4 separate regions of the Homo sapiens genome follow, and regions 2, 3 and 4 are each reported to be linked to region 1. The links are microRNA targets in miRTarBase. Many come from high-throughput screens and were not tested one by one. Region 1 holds a microRNA gene; each other region holds the end of a gene's coding sequence.
What was found. The annotated mature microRNA hsa-miR-607 reads GUUCAAAUCCAGAUCUAUAAC and lies in region 1 at 3,498-3,518, shown strand. An mRNA with a match to its seed (bases 2 to 7 or 8) in the 3' UTR can be bound and repressed. Matches are read on the target gene's strand: a 7mer-m8 pairs with bases 2 to 8, a 7mer-A1 pairs with bases 2 to 7 and ends in A, and an 8mer does both.

Region 1 (7,762 bases):
CTGCCGGGGGCGGTGCGGGGGCAGGGCCGGCCTCACCTCACCGTGGCCCCGGCGTGGCCCGGGGGCGGCCTGGGCCCGCTCACCCGCCCCGCGCGCCGCCCGCCGGGCTGCGATCCCGCCGTCCTTCTACGCGGCTGCCGCCGCCTCTGGCCGCCCGGGACGGCGCCTTCCCACAGCCGGAAGTCAGTCCCGCTGGCCCCGCGCCGCCTTCGCACTGTCCCCCAAGGCCACGGCTGCCCCCGCCCTCCCCGGGGCTTTTTGTTTTTTACGCCAGCCCCATTTATCACTTCCAACCTGCCTATCGCCCGGCACCAACTGTTGCAAGTTCCGTAATAACTGCTGCTATGAACTTCTCCGTCGAAACTGCTCCTCCCCAGAGCCTGTTTAAGAAGCAGAAATAAGAATAAATTCCCGGATGCCGGTGGATGCACTGACCTCTAAGATTTTCAAAGGTGAAGTGGATACACGTTATTAAGTCATTGGGAGACATCGCCAACATTGGGAAACCTAGTAAAAAGTGGAAATCGAGCGTTTTAAATAAAAAAAAAAAAAGGTTTCTACTAGCAAGACTGATCGTAGGCGAACTTCTCAAGGAATTTTGGAATATTGTGCCAAAGTGAGAATATTTAATATTTCCAAAAGTAGACTTAACTAGGAATACTTAAAGCAGAGACTATTGGAAATGCTTTAATTTGGGATTTCAGGAAAGGGCTTGAAGAGAAATATTTTATATGAGCAAGCCTCTTGGAATAATTGAATCACCTTAATTTTGTCACTGTTACTTCGAAGAGAACGAGAAGAGAGAAGATGGGAAACGAAAGGAGAAAGGGAAAAGAAATGGGGTGGAAAGAAAAAAGCAGAAGAGATCGCCCTATACCAGTAGGCCTAGTACCCTAGGATTCTGGCCTCTTTCTCCCACCTTTGGTGTTTAAGATTAAGGACAGTGCATTCCTGCTTTTAGAAATTTAAATTTAAGTTTGAAGACTTAATTTTAATTACTGTAGTAGGTAAAGCAAAGTCGTTAAATACTTGACATCAGGATCCCATTGGAGTATTGATTTAGGTCTTTTCAAAGGTGGTGGTCCTGGTTCTCTGCACCAGCCACTGGCGGAATGGCGGAATGGTGTATCTACCAATGAACAGATGGACTGGGTGGGCCTCGGGTACGGGTGGCTTGAGATGCAAATGCAAGGGTAGGAAGGCACCTTCCCCCCCACCACTCCCAGCCCACCCCGCCAATCTTAAAACATTGATCTTTATAAAATTCGCAAACGTCCCACAGGATTTCATTGGCTTAAGAGTATTGTCAAATGAAGACGCCAGGAAGTATTGAGTTTCTGGGTACATAATACTGTCCTGAGTGTTGAAGGAAGAGGACTAATACGAGATTTTAAAAAATGGCTGTGGACAACCATCCTTCAGGTGTGATGGCAGGACATCTTGTATCACCTGAAACTTCCTTTTTTCGCCGCTAGGTGGTGGGTGTGAGTCTTTTGCGGCCTTTAAGTTTCTACGGTGTTTGGAGGAAATACGTTTCAGTTTCAAATAAATGAACAACGTGTAACTCTAAGATGAGTAAATAATCAATGTGTTTTCCAACCACCCCAAGTTAATTTGTTTAAAAAACAATCAAACCAAGGGTAATAATTCCTCGACATAATCTCTTAGTCCCAGACATATGGATTCAGAGAATCCTAGAGGCTTCAGAGATCAATTTTGTAACTTAAGATATGAAATTGGAAGCCCAGACAAGTAAGGTGATTTGACCAAGATTACATAGTTGCTGGGTAGAGAAAGGGCAACAAAAGCCAGGAGACAAGTTTCCCAATTTCCAATTTAATGCTAGTTTTACTACTCTACTCTGAGTTCCAATTTCTGCTTCACTTATTTTGAGTTGGGAACTAACTCATGGTTGACCTATCACAAAGACCTATTTGGAAGAAAGGATAGGGAGGCAATAGTAACAGCTAATATTCATTGAGCACCTATTATATGTTTATCATTGTTTCATTCCATCCAGATAATAATGCTATGAGTATATATTTACCACATTTTCCAAGTTAGGGACACAAGACTCAGATGAGTTAAATACATTTGTCAAGATCACATAGCTACCAAATTCTAACTAAGATCTCTGTGACTCTAAACCCCTCTAAATTGTCTTACAAGTAGAAAGTTGGCTTGGCGCGGTGGCTCACGCCTGTAATCTCTGCACTTTGGGAGGCTGAAGTGGGCAGATCACTTGAGGTCAGGAGTTCAAGACCAGCCTGGCCAACATGGTGAAACCCCGTCTCCACTAAAAATACAAAAATTAGCTAGGCATGGTGGTGGGCACCTGTAATCCCAGCTACTCAAGAGGCTGAGGCAGGAGAATCCGTTGAACCCAGGAAGTGGAGGTGGCAGTGAGCCGAGATCGTGCCACTGCACTCCAGCCTGGGCGACAGAGCTGAGACTCCATCTTGATAAATAAATAAATAATAAGTAAATAAATAAATAGTCTTACAAGTAGAAAATAGACTCTGCAACTGGAGGATTCACTTAACTCTACATGACATGTTCCGAGCACAGTTAAGCAGTTGGACATTCTGTGTTCCTATCACATGGCAGGCGGTGTCCCAGGCACCGAGGACATAGATAGATAAGACAGAATTTCTGACCTCTGTTGCTTTGGGCTACTGTTAAAGAGGGCCTTAGCTGTAAACTCTTACATTCTAGGGAGGGGCAGGTAATATAACATGGCAGTTAATAGGGTCTGAAGACAGCTGGGTTGGAATTCTGGCTCCATTTTTCAGTGGCTGTGTGACCTTGACATATTAACTTTTCTGGTCATTAATTTCCTCATGTGAAAAAGAGGATAATAATAGTCTGCAAGATGGGGTTTGTGTGAAAATGAAATGAAACTATTCACGTACAGTGCTAGCACATTCTTAGCATGAAATGAGCATCTGTTCTCTGATTAGGCCTTCCTAAGCTCCTATCTGTTTGCCCAGTCTGCAGGATGATGGGAAACCAAGATGCTTCTGCAGTTTGGAGTTAATCTGTGAGAGTATGAAGGAATGATAGCAATGACCTCAGCCTTTGAAAACAACCTCTGAGCCATGTTCTATAGTTCTCACAATGGCAGAAAAGGAATGTCAGGGAAGGGGAGTAGGACTTGGCTTGTCAGCATTAGATCAACTACTACCTGGTGTCTGATTAAAGATGGCTTGCAACATAGAAATGATCATTGACAAATGGGAGGATGAAATGATTGGGGCCTTCTAAAAAAAGCATGTCCTAATGGGAGGCTTTTTTAAAAAAACATAGTCAACTTCAAATAAATTCCAACAAGCAAGAGATGCTTTTTGAAGCACGTTTCAAAGATTATGTTATTTATTCTTCGCAACAACCCAATCGTGTATCCCATTTTATAACAGAGCACAGAGAGGTTAAGTAACTTGCCTAAAGTCACACAGGTTATAGATCTGGATTGGAACCCAGGGAGCCAGACTGCCTGGGTTCAAATCCAGATCTATAACTTGTGTGACTTTGGGCGAGTTACTTAAAGCCGGCTCTTTAACCATCACACTATTTTTTGCTTCCAGTGCTATTTCGGGGAAATGAGACCTAAGTCAGAGACAAGACCTAGCCAGACAGAAAGGAAGCCATGTCACTTGGTCACACGGCTTTTGGTCTTTTTGAGAAACTACTCATGTAGTGGCTTTTTTTGCTTAATAAAAGACTTTCAGGCCGGGCATGGTGGCTCACGCCTGTAATTTCAGCACTTTGGGAGACCAAGCCGGGAGGATCACTTGAGGTCAGGAGTTCGAGACCAGCCTGGACAGCATGGTGAAACACTGTCTCTACCAAAAATACAAAAAAAATTAGCTGGGTATGGGGTGCACCTGTAATCCCAGCTTCTTTGGAGGCTGAAGCAGGAAAATCACTTGAAGCCGGGAAGCAGAGGTTGCAGTGAGCTGATATCATGCCACTGCACTCCAGCCTGGGCAACAAAGCAAGACCCTGTTTCAATAAATAAATAACTTTCAGAGTTTCTCTCTTTTCAGCCTGTATACCTCTATGCCACTGGCCTAGAAAACATGTATGATTTTACTTTATGTTGTACGTGTGACATTTATTTTTCTTCTGTAGTTTTATTGAGATATATTTCACATACCATAAAATTCGCCCATTTGAAGTGTCCACTTCATCTGAAAGCAGGCAGTGGGAGGAGTGGCATCTCTTGGCTTTTTCCTGGGCTCTTGGCTCTGGGTCTTTGGCGCATGTTTTAGCATGGTAGAAATGTTTGACTGTCCCAGCCGGGTGCTGCCTTTCTGCATAAATGAGATCTTTTCTGCCTGGCAACATGGTTTTACCCTCACATCCAAAAGCTCCTAGTTCCTACACAGCTACTGGCTTGTCTGTTTTGAGGCAGTTCCCTTCTTGGAGGTTTCCTTGATATAGCTATGGGTTTGGGTGTCCACTATCCCCATGCCACTAAGCTTGTTCTAGAGTTCAAGACCCATCAACCCCTGCCCCCCAACCACCACCAACTGCGAAAGATTCCTCTTGGGCTCTTTCCCCATTATCTTTTCATCCTACCAGTCAGAAAGGAGGATCATTATTGGAGATCTACTGTTTACTAATATATTGGATGGAGGTGGTGCCCACCCTCTTGGCAGAGGAAAAGATTACAGCTACTAATGCGTCTGACCCCAGCCTGAACCAGTGTTTTAGTATCAAAGGCAAGTGAGACATAGTGTTGCTGTTCATGACCTTGTCCCCAACACAGCCACCTCTGTTTCACCTGCCTTACGTCCAGAAATGCTTTATCCCTACTGTGGAGCAGCTGACTCTGGGGATCCCATGCCAGAATCATGGGGAGATAGACCATGGCCAGGATATATTTCCAGCAGAGAAGCTCTGTCATCTGCAGGATTGCAAGGTGAACCTTCACAGAGCTGCCTGCGGTGAGTGTATTGTTGCACCCAAGACTTCCAGCTTCCCTTACTGTCAGGGGACCTGCCTGACCCTCAACAGTGAGCTTCATCAATCCAACTTTGCACTCAAAGTTTGCACTATAAGAGGGGAGTGCCTATTGATCTGTTCCTGGCTCTTTCAGACCTGTAGTCCCACCAAGGTCATTCTCTTCTCCCTAACGGTCCAGGATGACGAACGTAAGATGAGCGTTCACTGTGTGAACGCATCCTTGATAGAGAAGTGTGGCTGCTCTTGAGACACCCGGGAGCCTCCTCCTGGCTCCATACCCTCCTAAGTCTCGGGACTCAAGTGGGGGGTGGGATTGGTTCCCATAGCAACTAGAGCTCTTTGAAGGGAGGTAGGATTTGGCTTCTGTTTCTCAAAGCACAGCAAGAAGGATGGAGTTATGGCAGTAACCCCTCTTAGATGCTCCTTTTTGACATGGACAGAGGCTCCCCCAGTGCTGTTCTCAGTAACTCCTATTACTGGGAAGCTGAGCCCATTGAGATGTCTGACTATTGCTCTGTCCTAGATTGTGTGAGTGGGCCAGGCTTAGTGCCACCTCTGGAGTTACTTAGATGGAGAAAGAGGAACTGGAATTGGATGCATGTTAGCCCTCAGTGTAGAGGTAAAATTGTTACTGGTGTTAAACAAGGCTGGCTTTGGACTTTTCCAAGCTCGTTAGCTGCCACTGTCCTTCTCTGTACCATAGGACTGGGGCTGGTCCAGAGCTGGCCTAGGCATGTAAATTCCTCCCTACCTAGCATTCCTGGCCTCTTTGGAGTGAGTGAGGGCTCTGTCCAAGGCAGCATTCTGTCATGGGCTAGTTATGGGCAAAGGGCACCAACGCCTTCCCTACCTAGTGTCAGATGGGAGCCTCTGAGTGAAGAACATTGCTCGACAGATTGTTGATGGAGGGGGCTTCTGGCATCAGAAGTCTTTCTTTCTTTTCTTTTCTTTCTTTCTTCTTTCCTTCTTTCCTTCTTTTCTTTCTTTCTTTCTTTTTTTTTTTTTTTTTGAGACAGAGTCTCACTCTATCACACAGGCTGGAGTGCAGTGGCACAATCTCAGCTTTCTGCAACCTCCACCTCCCGGGTTCAAGCAGTTCTCTTGCCTCACCCTCCCAAGTAGCTGGGATTACAGGCACCCACCACCACGCCCAGCCCGGAAGGTTTTCTTACTATCATTTAAGGAACTTGATGATATTAGCTTTTCTACTATCTTTAGAACTTAGTACCATTACAAAATAATAAAAGAATAAAATGTACACTTCAGGGGGTTTTCGTATATTCACAAAGTTGTGCAACCATCACCACAATCACTTTTAGAACATTTCATCACCCCAGAAAGAAACCCTGAAATATCAGCAGTTATTCATCATTCCCCATCTCCTCACCCGCTGGCAACAACAAATCTAGTTTTTTCTTTTTTTTTTTTTTTTTTTTTTTGAGACAGAGTCTCGCTCTGTCGCCCAGGCTGGAGTGCAGCGATGCAATCTCGGCTCACTGCAAGCTCCGCCTCCCGGGTTCACGCCATTCTCCTGCCTCAGCCTCCCGAGTAGCTGGGGCTACAGGCGCCCGCCACCACGCCCGGCTAATTTTTTGTATTTTTAGTAGACGCGGGGTTTCACTGTGTTAGCCAGGATGGTCTCGATCTCCTGACCTCATGATCCACCCGCCTCTGCCTCCCAAAGTGCTGGGATTACAGGCGTGAGCCACCGTGCCTGGCCAAATCTAGTTTTTTCTCTATGAGTTTTCTTATTCTGGACATTTCACATAAATAAAATCATGCAATATGTGATTTTTTTTTTCTGACACAGTCTTGGTCTGGTGCCCAGGCTGGAGTGCAGTGGTGCAATCTTGGCTCACTGCAGCCTCTGCCTCCTGAGCTTAAGTAATCCTCCCACCTCAGCCTCTGGAGTAGCTGGGACTACAGGCATGTGCCACCAAGCCTGGCTAATTTTGGAGGGATTTTTTTTTTTTTTCTTTGCAAAGACAGGTTTCACCATGTTGCCCAGGCTGGTCTCGAACTCCTGGGCTCGAGTGTTCCGCCCACCTCAGCCTCCTCCCAAAGTGCTGGGATTATAGGCATTAGTCACTGTGCCCAGCCAATATGCGGTATTTTGTGACTGGCTGCTTTCACTTAGCATGTTTTTAAGGTTCATCTATATAGTTTTTTCATAGCAACCTGTTAAACAAAGGTTGATCTATGTTGTAGTATGTATCTGTATTTACTTTTTATTTTTATTATTTGAGATGGAGTTTCACTCTGTCGCCCAGGCTGGAGTGCAATGGCACTATTTTGGTTCACTGCAACCTCTGCCTCTCGGTTCAAGTGATTCTCCTGTCTCAGCCTCCCAAATAGCTGTGATTACAGTTGTGCACCACCACACCCAGCTAATTTTTGTATTTTTAGTAGAGACAGGGTTTCATCATGTTGGCCAGACTAGTCTCGCACTCCTGACCTCAAGTGATCCATCAGTCTTGGCCTCCCAAAGTGCTGGGATTACAGCCATGAACCACTGAGCCTGGCCTATATCTATTTTTTAATTTTTTCTTGTTAAATATTTCATCATTTAGATACAAAATTTTGTTTATGTATTTCAGTTGATGTATATTTTCATTGTTTTCACTTTTTGGCTATTATGAATATGCAGCTGTGAACATTTGTGTACAAGTTTTTGTGTAGACGTATGTTTTATGTTTATTATGAATATGAATGTGTTCCATATTAATTTTGAAATAATTTCAAGTGACCAAAAAGTTACAAGAATTCTCATGTCCCCCTCACTCAGATTCCCCAA
Region 2 (7,762 bases), not on the chromosome of region 1:
TTTTTTAAAATTTTTGATAAGATGTCCATTCCATTTTTCTAGAAATGCCCTTAATATTATATGATTGTAACAGTCTTGAAACTATTCATAGCTTGATTTTTGTTTTAGTTTTAAGCTGTGATCATCTTTCCAATAATCTATTATATATAAATAAACTTTTATGCTCAAAAGTGTTCATGACAATACCACAGTATGAGATGGTCAAACTAATTAAGTCAATTATGGTGGACTGCTGTGCAGCATTTAAAACCTTTTCATAGAATTTTTTAAACCCAGAAATATATGTACTAAATAAACAGCATAGAAAACTGTATATGAATGTGTAATATGTATGTATTTTACATATTACACAAAAACCAAAACACATATAGACAAATATTGGAAGGAAATAAGCCATATATTAATGGTTTTTCTCTCCATAAGATAGGATTATGGGTGATTTATTTCTTTAATTATTTTTATGTTTTCTATAATGACTGCATGTTACTCATTATACAAAATTCTAATTTTTTTAGAAAAATTAAGATAAATTATATAAAAAATAAGAGTTCTCAAAAAGTCAAAGGACATGTATATTTCATTTTAAGGGAATAAATATACAGATATTATTGTTTGGCTTTCAGGAAGTATGTGGAAGACTTCTTTGTCATCCAGAACAAAAATCAAATTTTTTCTCTTTTATAGGACTCTGGAAGGAAAAACTATATTTCTTTACATTCAGCCTAAAATTGCATGAGTATGTGTATGATTGTTACAATGTAATTACTCTTATTTTTTTATTCTTAGTTCTGTGTTTGATTCTTTCTCTTCTTTCCCTATGCCATATCCATTTTAGCTACTTATAAGCACTTTTAGGTTTACAATTTTGAAATCTAAACAATGTTTATTCTAAGATTTGATTTTATTTAAATATGAATGATACCTGGACTGATTCCAAGAAATTGTAGTGCTTTTCTCCCTCTTCATTTTTCTTTTCAGTTGGGGTGAAGCAACATCTGATTTGAGATAGTGTATGATAAAATTAAATAAATTTAAATTTAAGTTTGAGTCTTAGCCATAACAGTTAGTAGCCTAGCCCTGAACTGTTGCACACAGTATTTCATTTATCTAAACCATAATATCCTCTTTTATAAAAATAGAATAATAACAGAATTATTATCAGAATCTTATGGAATAATATGTATAAAATACCCATCACAGTACCTTGCATGTAGTAATTATTGATAATTATTATTGTTATACTTTTGTTATCTCTATCCTCTTATTCAAGAACTGCTTTCATTAGATTACTTAAAACTATTGCATGTGTTAATGTTGCCTAAAGTCACAAATACTTTTATTTTTCTTTCTTTTTCCAATAGCTAAAAAAGGAAGTAGAGATGAAAGGTGTGTGGAGCATGCCATCAAAATACTCTGAAGAAGGAGTTTATAACGTTCAGTACAGTTTCATTAAAGAAGCTGAACATCACTGCTTGTTACATAGCCCAATTCCTGTGAACTGCCCCATAAGATTGCTCCATGGCATGAAGGATGACATTGTACCTTGGCATACATCAATGCAGGTTGCCGATCGAGTACTCAGCACAGATGTGGATGTCATCCTCCGAAAACACAGTGATCACCGAATGAGGGAAAAAGCAGACATTCAACTTCTTGTTTACACTATTGATGACTTAATTGATAAGCTCTCAACTATAGTTAACTAGTATCACATGTTTAGTTGGTATGTAAACTAATGTATCCAGAAGATTGGAAGAGGGATAAGAAATGAAAGATCCTGATACTTTAGGTTTTTCCCTTTCCTCTATTTTGTAAATATAAGATGAGTATTATTTAATGATGTATTTGCATAAGTAATGCAAATTGTGAAGAAGGACCAGCTGCTGTTTAGAAAATTTTCTCCTTCCTTCTGTCCTTGATTTTTTTTCATTAAAGTATTTCCTTTTTTTAATTCAAGAAAAGTTTACCTTTCTTATGCTTATGTTAGCTATGCCAGCTCTTAATTGCATCCTTTTCTAATTAGGATTATTAATAAAGCGTGAATATTTTGTTTTTTATTATAGACAGAAATTTGTAACATTACTTCTGATTTGAAAATGCAATTCACAAAATATAGGGAAATTTTTATTGAAGTAAATTTGAAATGATGGAGAAATTTCAGAAGCATAATAAAGTTCACAATAAGGATAATACTTTATATAATGTATAAAGTATATATAATATAATATATATGTTATATAAACTGCACATTATATTCAAACTTAAAATTGAGCTTTTTTTTTAAAGGCCCAAAATTGTACAGTGATACAAGGAGCTATTTCTAAAATTTGGCTTATGTATAATATATTTAAATGGGGAATTTCATCTAAAACAATGATGTAGTATTTTTAATATTCTGATTGGTAAAATTAAAGAGGAAATTAATCTTTATATATTATTTCTTGCAGAAACATTCATTATTTTATTAATATTGCCCTAAGTACAACTAGGCAAGTGATTGCCACCTAAATCAGAAGACGTTCTAAAGTCAGTAAGAAAGTGTGAAATGCTAGTATAAAGGTTATTTTTTTTCTTTCCTAAATAACTAAAGTGAGGTGTAGATTGAGCCTTGATATTATTTAGTTAATGTTTTTTATTAATTAATTTTGGCTGGACTTTATTTAGCTTGATTAGGTTATTATCTGTCAAACCTTTTAAGTTGACAACATGACTCATATATATACATGTGTATAAGATGAGCATGTGTCGAAGACTTATTCGACTCATTAATGAGGAAACCAGCAGATAGTAAACCTGGTTCAAAGTACAATTCAAGAAACTGAGTATTTATGGGCATTGAAGAAAAAATGTTGAGATAAAATTGCTGTGCAGAAAAAAGTGTTAATGAAGCCGACCTGACTACTTAACCTTAGAGACCTGCTTTACAAGGTTGGCCCTTGATTGGCATCTGGGAACTTGGAGTTCAGGGGGCTTCCACCATTCCCAGAACTGATCAAAGTAGCTTACTATATCTAAACTGTAAAACAATATAGTTTCTCCTGAACACCTGCTTTCCTTCTGGGAGTCTGGAATTTTGGTATGTGCCAGGCAGAGACTACCTTTGTGACCAGCTCCCAGTAAAAACCCCAGGCACTCAGTCTCTAACAAGCTTTTCTGGTTGACAGTGTTTCACAAGTGCTGTTACAACTGGTTGCTGGGAGAATTAAGCTCATCCTCTGTGATTCCACTGGCGGAGGATTCTTGGAAGCTTGCACTTAGTTTCCCCTGACTTCACCCCATGTGTCTTTTTTCCTTTGCTGATTTTGTTTTGTATCCTTTCACTGTAATAAATCATGGCCGTGAGCAGAACTGTATGTGGAGTCTTATGAGTCTTCCTAGCAAATCTTCAAATTTGGGGGTGGTGGTGAGGGCCTCTCCACAGATACAAAACTGGTTTATGTCCTACGGGGCAATTAAACTACAATCCATGGGTTATCTTTTATACTGGACAAAAATTACAAACAGCAAAGATAAATCATCTATGAGTGCCACAGTCTCTGGTGCTGGAGTGGGTTGATAGAAGATGGCACTGGCTATTCAAGGACTTACTTTGCCTAGACATTGCTAGGTGTGAGGCTTGTTAGGAACATGAAGGCAAGGGCCCTTGCCAATGATGGTTTTCTGCGCAAAATAATAAATATGATTTGAGATTTATAATACATATGTAGAGACAGTATAGCATAATGGTTAAGGTCAGAGACAAGCTTGGTTTTTAATTTTGGCTCACCATTTACTAGCTCTGTGACTGAGCAGTTAACCTCACTGAGTCTCAGTCTCTTCTGTAAAATAACATAAACCTAGATAATGCGGTGTAAGGTCTAAATAAGCACAATACATTTAGAACAATGACACAGGAGGCAGTATCTTTTTGCTTTTCATTATGTACAGAACACAGTCCCTTCAGAGACTGATGGACACAATCAATGAAGGCATAGGAAGGAAGGTGGAGGCAAGGAAGTGGGTAGGTCTTCTAAAGCTGAACTGAACTGGACTGGATTTGACCTTCCTGACCTCAAGATCCCAAATAGGAATGTTGTATGGTATTCTTTCAAATGCTAATGGTTTAAAACAAAAAAGGAGAAGGAACCTTTATTACCTAAAGTTAGGAAAATCTTTTAAAATTTAATCTAGCTTTGCAGAGGTTAACATCGCAAATTCCAAATGAGTTTGCATCCATGAGATTTAGTGTATTTTAGTGCGCTGTTAATTATTTGTTTTTTCTAGTTTTCCCCAAAGCTCCTTTCTGAAACCGTTCCATCCCATGTATTTAGTGACGTGTAAAATGGAGGAATAACTGGGAGCCCTTCAGTGCCTTAGCCCCTGGAACTTAGTCATTATTTAAAATAAGTGACACGACCCCTCTAAATCTCAGTATGCACAACAGAAAGGGATAAGGCAAATACCATTTGAAAAGAAGGCTAAGTGAAGCCACGTAATCTATTTTGCTTTTGCTACATCTGTTGAGATTAGAGGCATTTCCAGATACAAATCTAAAAAGTACACCATTCTCCAAACAGCCAATATAGAAACGTCTCTGGAGAATGAGAAGAAAAAAGCTCTGGGCAACACTGAGTTTTATAAAATATGGAGATAGAAAGCTGAAAGAATTACTTGCCACATAACTATTCCCAGGATAGTCCCCAAAGCGAATATGTCAAATACTCATTAAATTTGGAACAGTTAAATCTAAAGAATTTTTATATTCTGGGGTTGAGGTGGGTGGAATTTCAATATACCTTTTTAAGATCCTCTAAATATAGATCTCAAGTACTTCTTAGTTTAGAAACAATCGTGGAGATGTGTAATGGTTGGATGAAAAAAATGTGATGCTTTGGTGTATTTAGAGAATATACCTAGAAAATTGCAGGCAATTTTTTTTAACCAAATGTATCTTTTGGGGAAAATATACATTCCCATTTTGTCTTCCCCTTTTCCTAGGCTTTCAGGGTTTTGCAGGTAAACTTCTACTAAAGAAGAAGCTCAAAAGTCAGTCTCTCAGAATCCTTTCCTTACTCATCCCCATCTCTCTTTTTCAGGAAGTTTGTTGCTGGGTCCTCTGGGCTCTCTTGTGAACAGTACTCTATCCATGCCTTTTTGGTACCACTTGCTGCTTTGAAATTCTCAGTTTATATCCTAGCTTCCTTCTCTCAAAGGATGACCAAGGTCAGAAGCTTTATTTTGACATTGTTTGTCCTCAGACACCTCTGACTATGCTATATCAACCCCTTTACTGGCTCCTCCTCCTTGCCCACCTTATAATGTTAATACTCCTTGAGTTCTGGCCTTGGCAGTCTTCTCTTGCTACTTATTCACCTTGAGGAACATCACCCATGTTCATGGTTTAAACTACTACCTGCTTGCAGGTGACTCAACTACATACCTACAATCTAGACTCTTGAGCTCCAGACCCATAAAACCAACTGCCTAATGAACTGGGATGGACCATGGGCTTCCCAAATGCAGTAAATCCAAACCTTATTATCTTTTCTGCTTTATGTCTCTCCCCACCTATGAGTCCTCTTAAAATAAATGGCGCCACCATTGCTTCTGTTATACAAGTCAAACTTGTGAGTCATTCTGTCTCCTTTTCCTTTACCCAAATCAGATTGATGATCCTCTCTCTCTATGAAAAAGCTCAAACTCTTGCATGATATGTGAGTCCATGAAAGGCTGGTTTAACAAACAAAAACCAGTTGCTGAAAGCCAGTTTAACAACTGGCTTTTGGTGGTGGGGTGGAAGCCCTGATTTGTAGCATTTGCTAACATTCACAGCATAAATATTCCTGCCCTGGCTGGTTTTAAACTACATCATGACATCTCTGAATGCAAAGCTGGAAGAAAATACCCAGTAGCACACCATCACATAGTATTTACACCATATAGAGACAATAAACGCAAATATCCTCAACATAGCTAACAGTAAAATGTAGCAAAAAAATCAGGAAGTGCTTCATTTTTAGTAACTTTTCTTTGTAATATAACTTATTTAAGAGTAAGTTAATATAACCTTATTGCTAAGAATGACTGAGTTTAGCATCTGTCTCTTGAAATTCCTGAAAATTTAACCATGGGCACTTGCAAACACACCATTTTATAATCTGGAGCCTGCCTGACATTCCAGCCTCATTTTTCTTTCTATGTTTCTCTTCTCTTTAACCCTATGTTTTATTAATACTGGAAGATTTTCACCTTAAATACACTTCTTTTGACAGCAACATTCCCTACCCCTCTTGCCTCACTCTATCCACCTGGCAAACACCTACTTGTCTTTCAAGACTTAAAATAATCTCATTTATAAATCTGTCCCCTGATTCCTTAACACCCTCCTCCAGGTATTATTGTACCAACCTGAGTTCTTTGTGCATAATTTTAGCATGACATCTGGCATTTATTGTTTACAAGTTTAACTTCGTTACTAAACCAAATTGTCATGTATCATTTATTTTTGTGTCTCAGCTATACACATAGGCCCTTAAAAAGTTGTTGAGGCCAGGCGCGGTGGCTCACGCCTGTAATCCCAGCTCTTTGGGAGGCTGAGGCGGGCGGATCACGAGGTCAGGAGATTGAGACCATCCTGGCTAACATGGTGAAAACCCCGTCTCTACTAAAAATACAAAAATAAGCTAGTTGTGGTGGCTCATGCCTGTAATCCTCGCTACTTAGGAGGCTGAGGCAGGAGAATCACTTGAACTAGGGAGTCAGAGGTTGCAGTGAGCTGAGATCACACCATTGCGCCCCAGCCTGGCCACAGAGTGAGACTCCGAATCAAAAAAAAAGAAAGAAAAAGTTGTTGAAAACATTAACTATAATACTAGTAGGCACTTAGTAAATGTGGCATTGAGCTGATTTCCACTGTCACCCCTGAGGAGATGAAGCATTTTTTCTCTGAAGACTTCCTCTGGATTTCTGGACACTTCCATGCCCTGCTGTGGCCCCTCTCTTTGCCATTGTATCCTCTCTAGAAGCATGGGCCCAGTCATTCACTTAAAGCACACCAGCTACTCTGTTATAATATGAGGGACTCTTTGGGTACAAAAGATTTGCAAAACACAGTGTTTAAAAAAAGTCAAGCAAATGTACATCTTTAGAATTGTTTCAAGCTTTGCATATCAAACCAACAACTTCCTTAGAGCCATTCCAGCCATGGAAAAAATTATGTGGTTTCTGTTTGGGACTCCGTTCCCTTAGTCTAAGGTTGGAACTAGCCTTATGGCTCCTCCCCAAGATACCAATGATGACTTCCATAATTCTTCTGTCAATTTCCCTGCTCTAAGCTCTTCCCCTAAGCTCCAAGTGTCCCAACACAGTGCTGCTGTCTTTTGAGCTTCTTCAACTGATGATTCCATGCAGCATCAAGACCTGCCTTAGTCAGCCCTTCCCTTGTCTCTTCCTAAACCTACTGCTCTCCTGAATCTCCTAGTTTTCTGTTTTCAGAGGACTGTCTGCCAGGCCTTCAACGACTGACCGCTAAGTCTTTTTCAGGCAAACCACCCACATATCTCCTAAGTAATTAAATTTTCATTAGTCCAGGCATCAGCCGGTAGGAGATTTTTCTCAATACATGTATTATTTGAGGAGTCATTTCCTGCATAGCTTCTAATCAATTTCCCACAGGGACAAAGATCATCATCCCATGTACCCAGAATTGCTTTATTTAATATGCTTGAGTCAATTTATCAATCTGTTTTCAATGCAAGAATTGTATTTTATTCCTCCTCAGTCC
Region 3 (7,762 bases), not on the chromosome of region 1:
TAGAAGTCATTTTCCTTGGGAACTGTATTTACCATATTTGAGAAATTGAAAAATTATACTCCCTGAGAATTCTAAATTGCTTTATTTATCTCCCCAAGGTCAGACAAGTGGTTTTCGGACATGGAAATATCCCATTCTACACTAAACAACAGCTCCAAGCTTTATTGTGTGTTATTACATGCAGTCACAGACAGGACAAAATAAAAAAATTGCCTTCTTGGCAAACTTCTATTTAAAAGGGCTCCCCTAGTGCTCTACCTTTAGCGAAAATCACAAAATGCATCTCACTTTTCCCCAACCCTGTGTTCAAGGTATGAAGGCTACACCTTTCTTATTAATCATTGATGCAATCTTGCCACCTACCCAGACAGATTCTAAATCACAGAATCAAAAGTTCTGTAATATAATACTATAGACAAATGGTATACAGTCCTGTAAATTCTCCTCAGAAAATGAATAGTTTGGCAAATCAGGCACTTGCCGCATTAAAAATAATATGCATATCTCCATATACGATAAATACACAGGCAACATTTGGGCCCGGTACTTACTGAGTTAAATCCTCTCATTCATACGTACAACACAAAACCATATCAGTCTGAGATTTCTGTTAGGTAGCCATGTGTCCTAGCACCTTTCCTCTGTTAAATTTTAAATACTGCAAAAGAACCATTTTCCCTGGGAGGCTCCCACACTTGGGATGAAACTTTCTCTGCGGAATTTTGGCACCCTATTAATTAGTGGTTATGAGTGGGAGCTGCTCTCTCTCAGCAACTCCTATTCTGCCATCAGTCAAGTGTGATTCTGCAATAAATTTCCACGAAGCAAACTATTTCTGGTAATTCTCCCTAATTAACACCAGGCCTGCTAATAATACATCAGTACCTATGTGTTTCTGATATAACCAAGATCTTGTCTGAGCATACCCAAAAAGGGAAACCGCCAATCCAAATTAAGCTTTTGCTGGCAAAAGGATTTTATATGTAGTTCTGTAAGAAAACCTTTGATAATCTTATATTGGGGACATTTCGACTAGAAAACACTGAACGACAGGGAGGCTTGCTCTGGTTTGAGCACTGAATGGGGATTTATTGTGAACACACGGTTGAGACTTAAGCCTATAAATCTTGTACTGGATTACTGTTTCTTAACGAAGGAATGACAGATCTCTTATTTTGTCGGTGCATTTTAATGTGCAATGACGTGATTGATAGAAACCAAACAGCAGCTATTAAAATGTCAGATGCAGACTTGATGCTCTTAAAAGTTTGGCTTCTGGAGTTTAATATACTGTGAGCAAATAGACTTGAATTTCTCTTTTATTCCCAACATAGAGCGTGCAACAGAAACATCTGTCTTAACTTTATACAGTTGGAAAAATATCTTAAACTAATAAACAAATGAGGCAGAGGTGAGCCTACCTAGTTGTGGAATAGTCAGTTAATGAGATTGAGATGAGTTAAGCATCCCAATATCTAATGCAAAATGTGGAAATATGGATGATGATTTATGTTCTTTGATTATGTTCTAATATGATGTTTGATATGACAGGTTGTTCCAATAAATCATTTCAGCAATAAATATTTTCAAAAGACAATAGACCTTATTTATCTATTAATTCATAAACATTGGGTACATTCTACATGCACGGCATAAGAACAGAGAGAAATACAATAAATGTGACAGTATTTTCAAATATTTTGTTTCTGAGACATTTTGATAAGCAAATATCATACTAGAAGGGTTCTTCTGAGAATTATTACATCCTATCCTAACCTGTGAATATGGAACTTGATTATTTTCCCATGATGACTTGATGGAAACCACTCGCCAACCAACAACAACAAAAAGGAGAGCTCATTTACAACAATGCAGTCATTTATTTATTGAGTATGTGCACATTATGGTATTATTACTATACTGATTATATTTATCATGTGACTTCTAATTAGAAAATGTATCCAAAAGCAAAACAGCAGATATACAAAATTAAAGAGACAGAAGATAGACATTAACAGATAAGGCAACTTATACATTGAGAATCCAAATCCAATACATTTAAACATTTGGGAAATGAGGGGGACAAATGGAAGCCAGATCAAATTTGTGTAAAACTATTCAGTATGTTTCCCTTGCTTCATGTCTGAGAAGGCTCTCCCTTCAATGGGGATGACAAACTCCAAATGCCACACAAATGTTAACAGAATACTAGATTCACACTGGAACGGGGGTAAAGAAGAAATTATTTTCTATAAAAGGGCTCCTAATGTAGTACTGCTTGAAAATGGTACATTTTTGTTGTAGATTATTTTAAACATAATGCTATAGTAATATTTTGAAGATTTGAGCTGTTATTTCCATTTGTTTTTACACTGTGACTAAATGATTAGGTTTTAGTTTTAGACTCTAAACGGAACCTGAATTAATAGGAAATAAACACGGTACTATAGTTGTCCTATGGTGCCCCTATGGGTGATGGGTTCCAAGAACCCCCTAGGATACTAAAGTCCATGATGTTCAAGTCCCTTATAGAAAATGGTGTAGTATTTGCATATAACCTATGCACATCCTACCATACACTTTAAATCATCTCTAGATTACCTATAATAGCTAATACAATGTAAATGCTTTGTAAATAGTTGTTATACTATATTGTTTAATGACAAAAAAAAGTTTGTACATGTTCAGCAAAGGCGCAACCATCCATTTTTTTCCCCAAATATTTTTGACCCACAGTGGGCTGAATCACAGATGCGAAGCCTATGGACATGGAGGGCCAACTGGACAAGCATAAGCAGGGGATACTTTTTAGGTTGCTACTTCAGCAGGCAACATTCAGACCATGGAAGTCTAGAGAAAGATTATAAATCTGAACTTACCGCTAAAAATTTTAAAATGGGAAATAAATCCAAGGAGTTTTTAGTCATGCATTATGATTTTAATCTATGTTATGCCAAGTACAGCATTCCAAAATATACATCTAGAGACTAAAAGTAAATGCTCTATAGTGAAGAAGTAATAATTAAAAAATGCTACTAATATAGAAAATTTATAATCAGAAAAATAAATATTCAGGGAGCTCACCAGAAGAATAAAGTGCTCTGCCAGTTATTAAAGGATTACTGCTGGTGAATTAAATATGGCATTCCCCAAGGGAAACAGAGAGATTCTTCTGGATTATGTTCAATATTTATTTCACAGGATTAACTGTTTTAGGAACAGATATAAAGCTTCGCCACGGAAGAGATGGACAAAGCACAAAGACAACATGATACCTTAGGAAGCAACACTACCCTTTCAGGCATAAAATTTGGAGAAATGCAACATTATGCTTCATGAATAATATGTAGAAAGAAGGTCTGATGAAAATGACATCCTTAATGTAAGATAACTTTATAAGAAATCTGGGTCAAATAAAATTCTTTGAAGAAAACATCCAAATGTCATTGACTTATCAAATACTATCTTGGCATATAACCTATGAAGGCAAAACTAAACAAACAAACAAAAAGCTCACACCAAACAAAACCATCAACTTATTTTGTATTCTATAACATACAAGACTGTAAAGATGTGACAGTGTACATTATATGACAATGCACATTAGCCAGCAAGTCTTTTATAGGTGGTTTCAGCAGCAACGATAAATAATGCAGAATTCAGCTCCAGCACTTTATTTCAAAAGAAATTTCCTGCCTCCCTCCAAGATGCAGGGTGAGGAGGTAGCTTGGGGTTGCTATTGGAGAAGTATTCAGTTTGCTACTTTGTGTCACCCCTTGCCATTCTTTTATCCCCAGTTAATTATTATCTGCATATAATATAAATCTGCTAGACCATAAATTAACAGCTTTCAGGACAGATGCCTTGAAAGTTCTTAGGGAGGTTAAACAAATATTGTAGCCTAAAACCTCCTCTATAACAAACATGCACACAATGGAAGTGATGTCGTAAGTGAGTGATGGGGCAGGAAGGACCTAGGGCTCTGTCTCGACTATAAAATCACCTTGCCCCAAACAAATTTAAATTATAACTTAGGAGGTTCATGGACTTTCATCCATTCTGGAAACAAAGAGAAAAACCAAATCAAATACCAGAATCTGTTTTCTCACTGGGCAAATAGCAACAGGATCCACAGTTTTACCACAATTGTTTCCCTGTCTCCATGTGGTATCTACATAATTCTTTTCCCAAAGGAGGAAATCAAATAACAGGCCAATCTGAGTAATTAAACTCCCCTCCCAACACTACCCAACCTCTGTGAATAAAAGCTTTCCAAACTTTGTGATCACATTTGAAATTGGTTCACTTATTATTGAGAGAAAACCACAAAAAGTCTCAATTTCATCACATCCTCAAACCAATCTTTTAATTTTTAAATGCAGAAGAAGAAACAAAACGAAACAAAAAGATCATTCTGCAAAGAGACCTCTCAACTCTTCATCAGCCAGTGGCATAACTCAGAAACTGATTTAACTAATTTATTATTTGAGAAAAGGGGATTGAAAAACAATTGGGGGGTATAATCTTCTGATTCACAATTCCCAGCCACATTCTTTTCTATTTATTCTCTCTCTCTCTTTTTTTTTTTTTTTTTTTTTTTTTAAGAGCCGGAGTCTTGCTCTGTCACCAGGCTGGAGTGCAGTGGTGTGATCTCAGCTCACTGCAACTTCCGTCTCCTGGGTTCAAGAATTTTCCTGCCTCAGCCTCCCAAGTACATGGGACTACAGGCACGCCCCACCATGCCCAGCTCATTTTTGTATTTTTAGTAGAGACAGGGTTTCACCATGTTGGCCAGGATGATCTTGATCTCTTGACCTCATGATCCGCCCGTCTTGGCCTCCCAAAGTGCTGGGATCACAGGCGTGAGCCACCACACCTGGCCCTCTATTTATTCTCTTTAAAGAGAGAGAAAACTATGAGAGGCCAAAATTATTTAATTAAATCTTTACCTTAGCACAAGGGAAAAAAATGGAATTTGCCTAATATAGGTGATGAAGCATACACAATGAATAGAAACAATCACATTTTAGTAAAAGGCAAAAATTTGAGACTTATAAGCTATATGGTAGCTTATTTTTGGGTGGGGAAGAAATGAGAAAAGAATATAACATCTCTTACTGGCATGACACATTTTGATAAAAAATCTTATTGTCCTTTCCTACTAGAATGATCCACTGTAAGGCAAAAATAATATACAAGCAAAGTTTTTTTTTGGAGACAGAGTCTCACTCTGTCACCCAGGCTGGAGTGCAGTGGTACGATCTTGGCTCACTGCAACCTCTCCCTCCCGGGTTCAAGTGATTCTCGTGCCTCAGCCTCTTGAGTAGCTGGGATTACAGGCGCGTGCCACTGCGTCCGGCTAATTTTTGTATTTTTAGTAGAGATGGGGTTTCACCATGTTGGCCAGGCTGATCTCAAACTCCTGACCTCATGTGGTCCACCCACCTTGGCCTCCCAAAGTGCTGGGATTACAGGCGTGAGCCACCGCGCTCAGCCTACAAGCAATTTTTTAAAAACTGACACCTATTACTGATAAAATTCTCTGTTTAAAATCCTATTTACTATTTTAAAGATAAGTATTAGTTTTTTTTTAAATACAATAATTCTGTTATTGATAAAATTTAAGGCATTTTCATTGCCTTTTGCAGATTTACTCATAACTACCTAACAAGGAAAGAAGGTATAATTATTTCAGATTGGATTATTTATTCTAAAATTAAATTCTTCACTAATTTATTCTAAGATGAATTTAATAGTCCATCAGGAAATTGGTTTTTATAAAGCTTATTTTATGGGCATAAAATACAGGAAAAAGTAATAATAAATGCCAAACCGTCTCTTTACTTTATGAAGCCAAATATTTCCTCAGACTTGGTTTTTAAAGCTGGAATTTATTCCTTCAGGGCCACTATTATTTTTCAAAACTCCATATAAATATTGAATCTAAAAATTAATTAGTAATTTTAATTTTCCTTTTTCTCTTCAAATTCCTTCTCTTCTCCTGAACTGTTGACTTTCAAAAATTCACAGAATGAGCATGTTTCTTACACAGGGGCTTGTCCTTCTTGGAGAAAAAGGTCTGACCTTCCAAACTTTCACAACACACCTGAAAAAGAAGCAGCATTTAAGAGATATTATTTAAGAGGATATTAAGAGGATTTTACCCAGTATGCTGGAGAAGGAGAGAGTGATTTTTCCCCCCAATGGATAATATGACAAAACACTTTAGTTGGTTAAGTTAGACTCCCTAATATTTGACGATTACTATAACATTAGATATAATCTTTCAAAAGCAATGAAAAATTGCTTTTTCCTAGAATGTATTCTAATTTATAGAAAGCACTGATCATCACTTTTCTTTATCCAGAGGGAAGATTTATCCCTAACTTGAAAATCAATATAGAAAGGGGGCTCGTTAAATATATTTTATCTCCCCAAATTATAAACAACGTCCTAATTTTGCTTTGTGTTGTAGAGACTCATTTGCTTTACCAAACCTTCCCAAGCCCAACATTAGCTTGCTGCCAGTTACACAGGCACAGAATACCTGAGACCCTTTTTTTTTAAGGGCTGCCTTGTGTTCAAGCTGAGACCTCTTTTGTTTGTTTCTTATAACCAGGTCAGTATCTGGCTGCTGAGGATTATACAGTCAGTCCACTATCTACATTTACAGCTCCTTGTTCTTCCTATTGCCTTTGTTAATTAGAATGAACAGCTTTATTAGAAAAGAAAAGGCAAATCTGCTAAAAGTTCTGCTTTTTATAGACTTTATGAAGTCTAAGAGATGGATGAGGTAAACAAGCAAAAGTTCAATGGTAATGTTTGGGGAAATCATTAAGCACCGATTAATATTACTTTTGCCCCCTTTGTACAATGAGTATTGAAAACTGTAGATATGTTAAATCTAATTTTAAAAAGTCAAACACCTGAACAGAGCACGTTTACTGGATATTTACTTCCTACATTTAAAAACTATTTATTTTAATATTTGAATCCATCCTAATCATTAAACATAAAACCAAAAATATTAAAATATCAAATGAATAGGCAAATACTTTATCACGTTTATTGGACCATAGTCTCAAAAAGAAAAGAATATCCAGGGGCTATTGCTAAGAAAAGAAATGACTCAACATATAGTTTATTCCCAGTGTTAATCCAATAGCCGATTTTTATAATTATTTATTTGTATTTTAAGAAGTACCTAACGTTTCCAAAAACTACAACAAACACTCCAGTAACAGAGGTTTTTTTTTTTTTAAGTAAAGGAATCTTACTGTTTTAAGAAATACATAGCTTCTCCTTATAGACAAAAATATATTAAAATTGTATTTTCTCTAAGGACTAAGGATCTCACTGTGTGCCAAATAATTTCAAAAATGCCAAAAAATTTAATAAACAACTTTCGAAATTTACAAAAAATTAAAAATAATTTTTCCTTAGGTTTGAAGGACTGAAAGACCCAGAAGCTGATATTTCCATTAAATACTAAAGCTAGAATTGGCCATACTATACCCCTTTAATTAGGAAATAAGACTCTACTTACTGAGCATACAAAGCAAGTGTCATGCCAGGTGTAGCCCAGAGCTTCCAGGAACATGTCACCAGCTTCTATGGGAAATTCACATCCATGGCATATAGTACCAAAGAGGGCATAATAATCTGTATTAAGGGAGGGCAGAGAGACATAATTTAAACATGATGAAGTTTTAGAATGATCGTTCCTAGAAGGCAGCAACAAAATCAGGATTAGATGAGATGC
Region 4 (7,762 bases), not on the chromosome of region 1:
ATTCATGAATCTCTTAATTATTACTTCCAAATAGTGACATATCTGTTAAGTCATCTTATGCTACTTAAAATTATAATTTAGAAAAGGCATCTTTGTGAGTGAAACTGGCCTTTAGCTTCTGTTTAAAGAAAAACATAAAGCTGTGCTGCCAAAGATGAAAAACTCATGTGAAATTAATAAAATACAATCTCAATTTTTCAGAAAGCAAAGATGATTTGTTCTTTCAACAGGCACATAAAATATATTATCTACCAAACTTATATAAAAAATGATCCCAGTTATGAGGCAAAAGAATCTATGTGCACAAGAGACTGAAAGGAAGCATGCCAAAATGTTTACTGTGGATATTCTATGGCTTATAGAGTTATAAGGGTGATTTTTCTTTTCTTCTTGATTCCTTTCAGGATATTCCAAGTTTTCTATAAAGAATATGCTTTACTTTTACAACTAGGGAAAGAAAGACAGAAAAATATATATAACATTTAAAGGGCAAAACAATATAGCTGTTTATTTTACAGGCTAAAATATCAAGATGAAAAGCTCTGATCCCAAATCATCCATTTTACCTATATTCTGTCACTTTTACTAAAAGCAGAGTTCTACTCATCCCAGTGAAAAAAACAATGAATTAAAAGTAATTTCTGGCGTTAACCCAAGTACCGAGTTAAGACTCCTTAAGAATATAGAATTATGTAATCAACTTAGATAATTCAAAGCCCAATGATATAACTAAGTTCTTTGACGATTGAGCACACATTGTTTCCTTACTTATCTTTAAACATTCCTAGTCCAATTACTCCCTAGCATAATACCATTTATAAATGAGGATGAGTTTACAATGGTTTCTGTAACCAAAAAGTATTTCTAATATCTGTCCTCTGCCACATATTTTTAAATTATCTTTTCCATTAGCAGAAATGGGCAACATAAGCAATAAATCATGTTAAGTCTGTTGCTACAAATTTACTTTGCCAAAATTTTTGTTCAGAGGGCAGATATCTGCATTATTTAAGGACATTTAGTCATTTGTAGCTAACACCTGAAGTAAACTACCCTCAATCAATTTTTATATTTCAGTCTAGTCACTGTAGACAAACTATTTAAATCTTTTATAATTTACTTTGTGTAGTTATTTGGCTTAAAAAAAAAAAAAGAGGGCTCACATTCTATTTAAATTAAGACAATATATTTTATAAAGCCCAAATTATAGTACACTAAGAGCCAGAGGGGTCTAGGGAATTGATCTCAGTGGGTATACAGCAAAGACAAAATTTGGAGGCAGACGCTAAAGGAAGTTGAGATAAATAAAATTCAAATCAGTGTATTAACAGAACTACACAAATGTTTACAACACAGTAACTACACTTTTCAATTAGTTCATTGTGAAAACTGAGCAAAATATTTTCAACAATTTTGGGTCAACAAAAAGTATGGAATATTTTAAGACAATAAAGAGTGACTGGTGTTGAGAGTACTGAGGCTACACAGAGGTACTGAAATTCAAATCTGAAAAATACTGTGCTGGCCACACAACACTACAAATTTCTAATGGAAGAATTCCCTTTTTGATCCGCAGCTTAGGTGGTAAGTAAATAAAAAAACAGCTCAGAAAAACAGCAAAAATATTAACATTTAGGAGTCTCAAAACTTTGTATTGGCTGTGAGTCTGGGGGAAAAAAACATAAATGTCATACTACCAATTAAACTTTCAAGAGTCATCAGATTATTTAGCTTTAAAATTTTACTAAATCAGACCTTAAACTACACATTCAAAATGCTGAACTAGATAATCACATATTAAAAAGGTAATGACTCATTATCAGTGAATTACCCAGTCTGTTCTATCAAAGTAGTAGTTAAGGTCACCAAATAATGTTGGTGCCTTTGGTTCTGGAATTATAACTAGCTGTACTGTAGGAGCATCAGCGCCTAAGTTTTAAGCCAGTGGGAATACTCTGCTGCCTGGCTTCACAGGCACTGAATACACTTAAAATGGTAAGAAACTGAATGGATTTAATAAGTTTTGAATAATACAATAACCAACTGTATATTTATTATGAAGTAAAAGCCAATCTCCTACCCAATCCCTCTTCTATCAGCTGCACATTTCCAAGTAAGTGAGATAAAATGACTCAATCTAAACCACGTGAAGGAATGTATTAACATAATCCAACAAAAATGAAATAAAACAATCCAGAGTTTTGAGTGTTTTTTCACACTTGTAATAAACTGAAAAAATATTTCAATTAAAACAACCATATGCCACAAAAAGCCACTCCCATCATCCACAATACTAAAGTCCTTATACAACACTAGATAAATTTTTATATAAAACAGTAGAAACTAGCATACCATTAATTAGAAACCTCAAAATATTCAGAAAACAGTATCAAGTACTCAAGAGAAAGCTCAAGAAGCCAAAACCTCAAGAATCCATACATCCTGGTTGTTACCCTAAATTGTAATTAACTACCCACACATTTAATCATAATCAACTTTTTCAAAGATATACAAATCAATGCATCTATTTAAAAGGACTACTCTTTATAGTTCAGAACTTTACATTAACTTTTATATTCTACTCAGCAGGGTGTCTGTCTGTACTCCAAATTAGCTCTCATGTTCCAGGAAATAAATACAAACTCATATGCCTTGTGATCACTGATGGCCTGCTTATGTAATTCTAGTCCACTAAATGTTAATTCCATAGAATATGCTCTTGATTATGTAAAAACTCTAATTTCTTGATGAAATACTGTAATTCTCCAAAGGTTACAATTTTGTAAAGATATGCAATAACTGAGTATCACTCCCATGAAAGACAAAAAAAGTATAATTTTGTTCCAAGATTAACTTAGTCTCATGTATCTCTATTAAGTCTTTCAAGGATTCCAGAGAATCTTTTCATATCTCCATTTCTGGAAAGTGAAATCAGTATAGAAGTAATTTGGGAACTTGAAAATGGCATTCATTTTTTTCAGCAGATGCCAAATTTTTGACCGACATGGTTCTCACAATTACTTTGTTACCAACAGTCCAGTCAGTTAACAGGTTGTAGGAAAAGATTCGTTTTTGCAGACACTGCTAAGCTGTTCAAAGAGAAGAGAGAGAGATTAATTTAGTGATTATAAAATGCACAAATATTTAAAATATTTTGAACACTTCTTGTTGGATTATATCAGAGGTGTGACTACATTTTAACAAAAGTGGACTTTTTAAGATAAGTCTGGTCAAAGAAGTGCAGAAACAGTAAGTCAATATGATAGAAATAGTAGGTCAAAATATGATGTGTTAGTTCAATTAATGTATGAACTCCTGCCACCATCAAAAGACAAATATTAAAAAGCTACATCTTTAGTCTAGTTCTGTATTTTACCAGAGGCACATTTAGAAGAAAAACAAAAGGGTCACCCAAATACTAAATTGTTTTCAACCATTACAGTAAATAGAGCCAAACCTAGAAATTTCAAAAACAATCCATTTTATATTCCAGAAATCTCCTTTATCCATGTGCTAATCATCCAGAACACAATTTTCTAAAAATAGTAAGACAACAGTTTCACATTAATCATAACTTTTTTAATTAACAAGTAGTGAATCGGACACTTTAAGATATTGTTTACTACATACTGAAATAAACAGATCTGTTTAAATTCAGAAACCCAAACATTTACAGTAAAATGTGCTTACACATAAATATGACCAAATTTATTTAAAGCCCCTATTAGATAGATCCTAAGTACATGCAATTACCATGTAAAAACAAGACCATGAAGTTGATGTAAAAAATGACAAAATCACTAAGTCACCAAAACTAGAAAAAAAAAAATGAAATGGAAACTGAGAAAAGACAGTTAATAAAACATAAGGAACCTAACAAAGCAGCTTTAAAAATAGGCCATACTAATCCTTCCATTTTCAAAAGTTCTTATCAAGTAATTCCAAAAACTGCCATTTATAAAATGACATTCTAAAAATCTACACTTGGAATTTCAAAGTATCTCAATTCAGAAAGCTTTGACTACTGTTTCTCCCCAGCCCACAATTTCAAATAATGCAGGAAAAGTATTGACGTAAGGAAGAAAATACTCCAACAGAATGTTATAGTTTTTAGAAAAATGAACTTACTGCTTTCCAGAACCTTTTAAGACCCACAGTCAGCATTAACAATCATTTTTCCTATTTTCATCCATTATTTTCCAATATCATGTTAGAGATGAATAAATTCTTTGAGCCCATAACTAAAAGATCAACAAACCTGGTTTTATTATGACACCATATTTTTGTCATTGGTACTGCACAAAATTATATACAAAGAAATATATACAAAATGTTCAAGTATTAGTTAAATTTCAATTCAAGGCTTCTGTTTCAAAAAAGCTACATTTAACATATTTCATAAAGATAGCACAAATTAGTCATTTCAAATAATCTTTCCAACTACTTTTGGTTTATATATATATATATATATGTATATATATATATAATTCAGTAGGCACTAAAAACCCATGCAGCTGCATTGTGAGGGGCTTGCTCCTGCCCTTAGGTATAAGCAGGTTCATCACTCCAATTTGTGAGTTTGGCTACTACCCATTCATGCTCAAGTGCAGTAGTAGATGATTTTACAAAATATGCTGTGATGCACTGGAAACCAAAGACCAATTCAGGTCTCAAATCGTATTATCTAGCAACAAAACATTTACAGTTGTGCAAGAACAAGGATTCCATTTTCATAACCAAATAACAAAATAAAACATTTTATGTGTAAGATAACTTACATCTTTGGACTGCTGGAAAATACTTTTTAATTATGAACATGTTAAAAATAAAAAACAGCAGAAGCCCTGATATTACCTCTTTTTCCTCATTTCTTATACTACCTTTTAAAATAAAGCAGGAAATGTGGCCAGCAGCTGGTCCCGTCTCTTCTGCCCCAACAGCTGTATCCACTTTAGCACAAAGAAAAACAAGGATGCTAAATACGTATATACTTTATCAAGCAGTGATGTTTCACAAAGAATTTCTTAATGCCTCTTACACTGAAGGACACCATAATTCAATTTATACAACTGGTTAATAGATTCAAGGGAATAAATCCCACCTTAGGAAAATAGTACCAATCGTGTCATTTAAGTGGCCAGAACCACTCAATTTAAAAAATTATTTTAAAATAGGACAAATACTTTTGAAACACAGAGAATAAGATTCTTTGTGAAGCCTCACTTTACACGTTTTCATTCACATTTCACAACCTTCAATATCTAATCATACATATATAAATTTAACCTAAAATTTTAATACAACAAAAATAAAGATGTTCAACAATTTATTCAATCTCAGTGATAGGGTAATCACTGCTGGTCCTCAAAGAAACATTAGCCATTCTTATTCTCCAATTAACTAAAACGCAGGAGTCTCATATGTATGTTAATTTCCAACTTCTCTAATGGTGAGACATTAAAATGTTACTCCATTATAGACTGTTTCTATATCTCATACTGAAAACTAAAAGGCATTGTTGATATTTAAGAGATACCTGTCACCTCCAGCAAAATAACTATCACATTTGTGCATGCCCCAAATACTTAACTGTCAACCTCTGAAAAGTTGCCCTAAAATCGGAATTCCAATTTGCACCTTGTACAACTCGGAACTTCCATTCAACTTCACCTGTTTCACTGTCTCCAAACTGTCTCTCTATAAGCAGGTTTCAGTGTACAGTTGGAACCGATGTCATCCAAGGCCATGTCCACACTGGGGACAGAAGAGCTAGGTACACGCAAGTCTGAATAAGGGGACACATTAATAGCTATTTCAACCAGAAGAGGCATCTTAAATACATTCTTGACCAGCACAAGTCTGTTTCCAGGGTGGACAGGGCCCAAATTAGATTTCCCTCCCACCTTCCAAAACAGAAAAAAAAAAAAAAATCACACACACACAAACTGAGATGTTGCCCATTAAAGTAGACAAAGCAGCAGAGCATGAGCGTTACGGGAAGAGATGGATCCTTACCAGGTTGTGAGGCGGGAACGACTGTTCTGTAACCCCTACAACGGAGCCTGGCAGGAAGGAAATCACCTAAAAAAGAAACTGTCAGAGAGATTTAATAGTCACATGTTATCATTAGGAGTTGGTTACTGTGTCACATTCATGCTTTTAGCTAAACACTTTAAGATTCAATATTACTTTTTTTCTCTCCTCTGAAATGTGTCCGGTGAAGATGTCCCACTAAGGTAAGTTTGACATGGTGTAAGGGAGTTGAAAGGGGTAAACGCGGATAAAGAGCAGATTACTTGACCCTACATTTTAAGAGAAGACGACGCCTTCCGGGCGCACGCCGAGCAGAACTCCACCGACACCTTATCCTTGTCCACATGGAGACAGACTCCTCCCGCCGAGTCGTCCTCTTCCAGCAGGTCCTGCTTCTGCTTTCCCACCGGCAGAGCGTAGTCGTGGTCACCGGCGGGCGAGTCTCTGAAGAGCGAGGTGGTCAGCCGCAGTCCCACGCCGCTCAGCCGGCTCAGCAAGCGAGCCAGTCCAGTCTCGTTGGCTAAGACTGCCCGTAGGTAGCGACTCTCCTCCTGCAGTGCCTGTACGCGTTTGCCCAGCTCCCGATTCTCGGCCCGCAGCTCCTGGTTCTCGGCTGCCAGACCCCGGACTCGACTCTCCAGCCCCATCACGTACTCCTTCTTCTTCAGTCGATTAAGGCGGGCAGCGGCCGCCGCCGCCTTCCGGGGACTCTTTGTCGCCGCCTGGTTGTTGTCGTTACCGCTGCCGCCACCGCCGCCTCCTCCTGGGGACTTTCTCCGCCTCTTTTCGGCGCTGCCACTGTCACTGCTGCTGCTGCAGCCTCCGATACCGTTTAACAGCCTTTGCAGCAGGTCAGAGAAGCGCTGCATTTCAGCAGCCGCGGCCTCATCGTCATCGTCCCCTCTCCACAGGCCGCCGCTATCCGAGCCTCCGCCAGACGAGGAGAGAGGCCCCGGCGAGCTAAGCCCGGGGTCCAGGTGCCAGTCCGGTTGCCTGGGGTCCAGGAGATCCGCCAGTTCCAGCCCAGACAGAAAGTCCATATCCTCCGTCTCTTCCCCCGGGAGGCTGGCGATCGCCTCCTCCTCCATCTCCTCGGGGGAGGGCGCGCGCACGGCCACGCCGCCGCGGCTCCCCCTCCCGGCTTCCAACTCTCCTTCGTCGCCAAACTGCTGCTTGCGGCCGGGAGATCCGGCCGCCGCCGTCTCCTCCTCCCCCGCTGCAGCCCGGGTCAGGTCAGAGGGCAGCGAACAAGTTGCAGCCGGCTCCGGGCTCTCACTGCGGGTTGGGGAGTTGCTGCCCGAGGCTGCCAGCAGCTTGGTCAGGCTATGCCTCATGAGGGCCAGCGGCGGGCCGCGGTAGGCCCCGGCCGCTAAGAGTGGGCCTCACGGGCCCCAAGGATCCCAGGCCCCAGGGCGGGTAGCCCCCGGCACTGGCCGAAACGAAATGCAGGGAAAGGTCCGAGTCGCCTCCCGCCTCACTTGGCTAGTCGACCCCCCGCGCCAAGGCGCGGGGAGGGACGGGAGAACGAAGCGGTGAGGCCCTGCGATGACTCGACCGCGCCACCCAGACAACGGCGTAGCCGGAAGTCAGTGGTTTTCGCCCCAGTCCCGCCCACCGCGTTTCGCGCGCCACCAGGCCGTAGTGTCGCGAGATTTCAGGGTGCTTTAGAGTGGGAATAATTCCAGCTTTCTAGTGATGTCATAATAACAGCGGCAAAAATAACAAGTCT

Region 2: miRTarBase lists ABHD10 as a target of hsa-miR-607. Seed matches in the 3' UTR shown: 8mer at 2,089-2,096 and 8mer at 2,137-2,144.
Region 3: the mRNA of PDLIM5 is a reported target of hsa-miR-607. Seed matches in the 3' UTR shown: 7mer-m8 at 5,982-5,988, 7mer-A1 at 5,917-5,923 and 7mer-A1 at 3,677-3,683.
Region 4: the mRNA of CREBZF is a reported target of hsa-miR-607. Seed matches in the 3' UTR shown: 8mer at 4,422-4,429, 7mer-A1 at 4,370-4,376, 8mer at 4,046-4,053, 7mer-A1 at 3,991-3,997, 7mer-A1 at 3,917-3,923, 7mer-A1 at 3,465-3,471 and 3 more.

The regions. Positions count from the first base shown.
Region 1 is chr10:96,824,440-96,832,201 of GRCh38, reverse strand. It overlaps MIR607 (microRNA 607), which reads left to right and starts at 3,438; the gene lies at 3,438-3,533. LOC102723665 (a long non-coding RNA gene) reads left to right here. Exons shown (of 1, transcript NR_135921.1): 1 at 1-1,570. RefSeq lists silencers at 1, 22-321, an enhancer at 1-95 and a cis regulatory region at 1,357-1,556.
Region 2 is chr3:111,990,016-111,997,777 of GRCh38, forward strand. It overlaps ABHD10 (abhydrolase domain containing 10, depalmitoylase), which reads left to right. Exons shown (of 5, transcript NM_018394.4): 5 at 1,362-3,353. The coding sequence ends at 1,706. Among named protein-coding and RNA genes, the nearest start is that of TAGLN3, 5.0 kb to the right of the region's middle.
Region 3 is chr4:94,662,322-94,670,083 of GRCh38, reverse strand. PDLIM5 (PDZ and LIM domain 5) reads right to left here. Exons shown (of 13, transcript NM_006457.5): 12 at 7,547-7,662; 13 at 1,861-6,106. The coding sequence ends at 6,017. Among named protein-coding and RNA genes, the nearest start is that of BMPR1B-DT, 91 kb to the left of the region's middle. RefSeq lists an enhancer at 1-1,790.
Region 4 is chr11:85,657,509-85,665,270 of GRCh38, forward strand. CREBZF (CREB/ATF bZIP transcription factor) reads right to left here and starts at 7,621. Exons shown (of 1, transcript NM_001039618.4): 1 at 482-7,621. The coding sequence starts at 7,367. The coding sequence ends at 6,303. RefSeq lists enhancers at 6,245-6,484, 6,595-6,884, 7,155-7,204.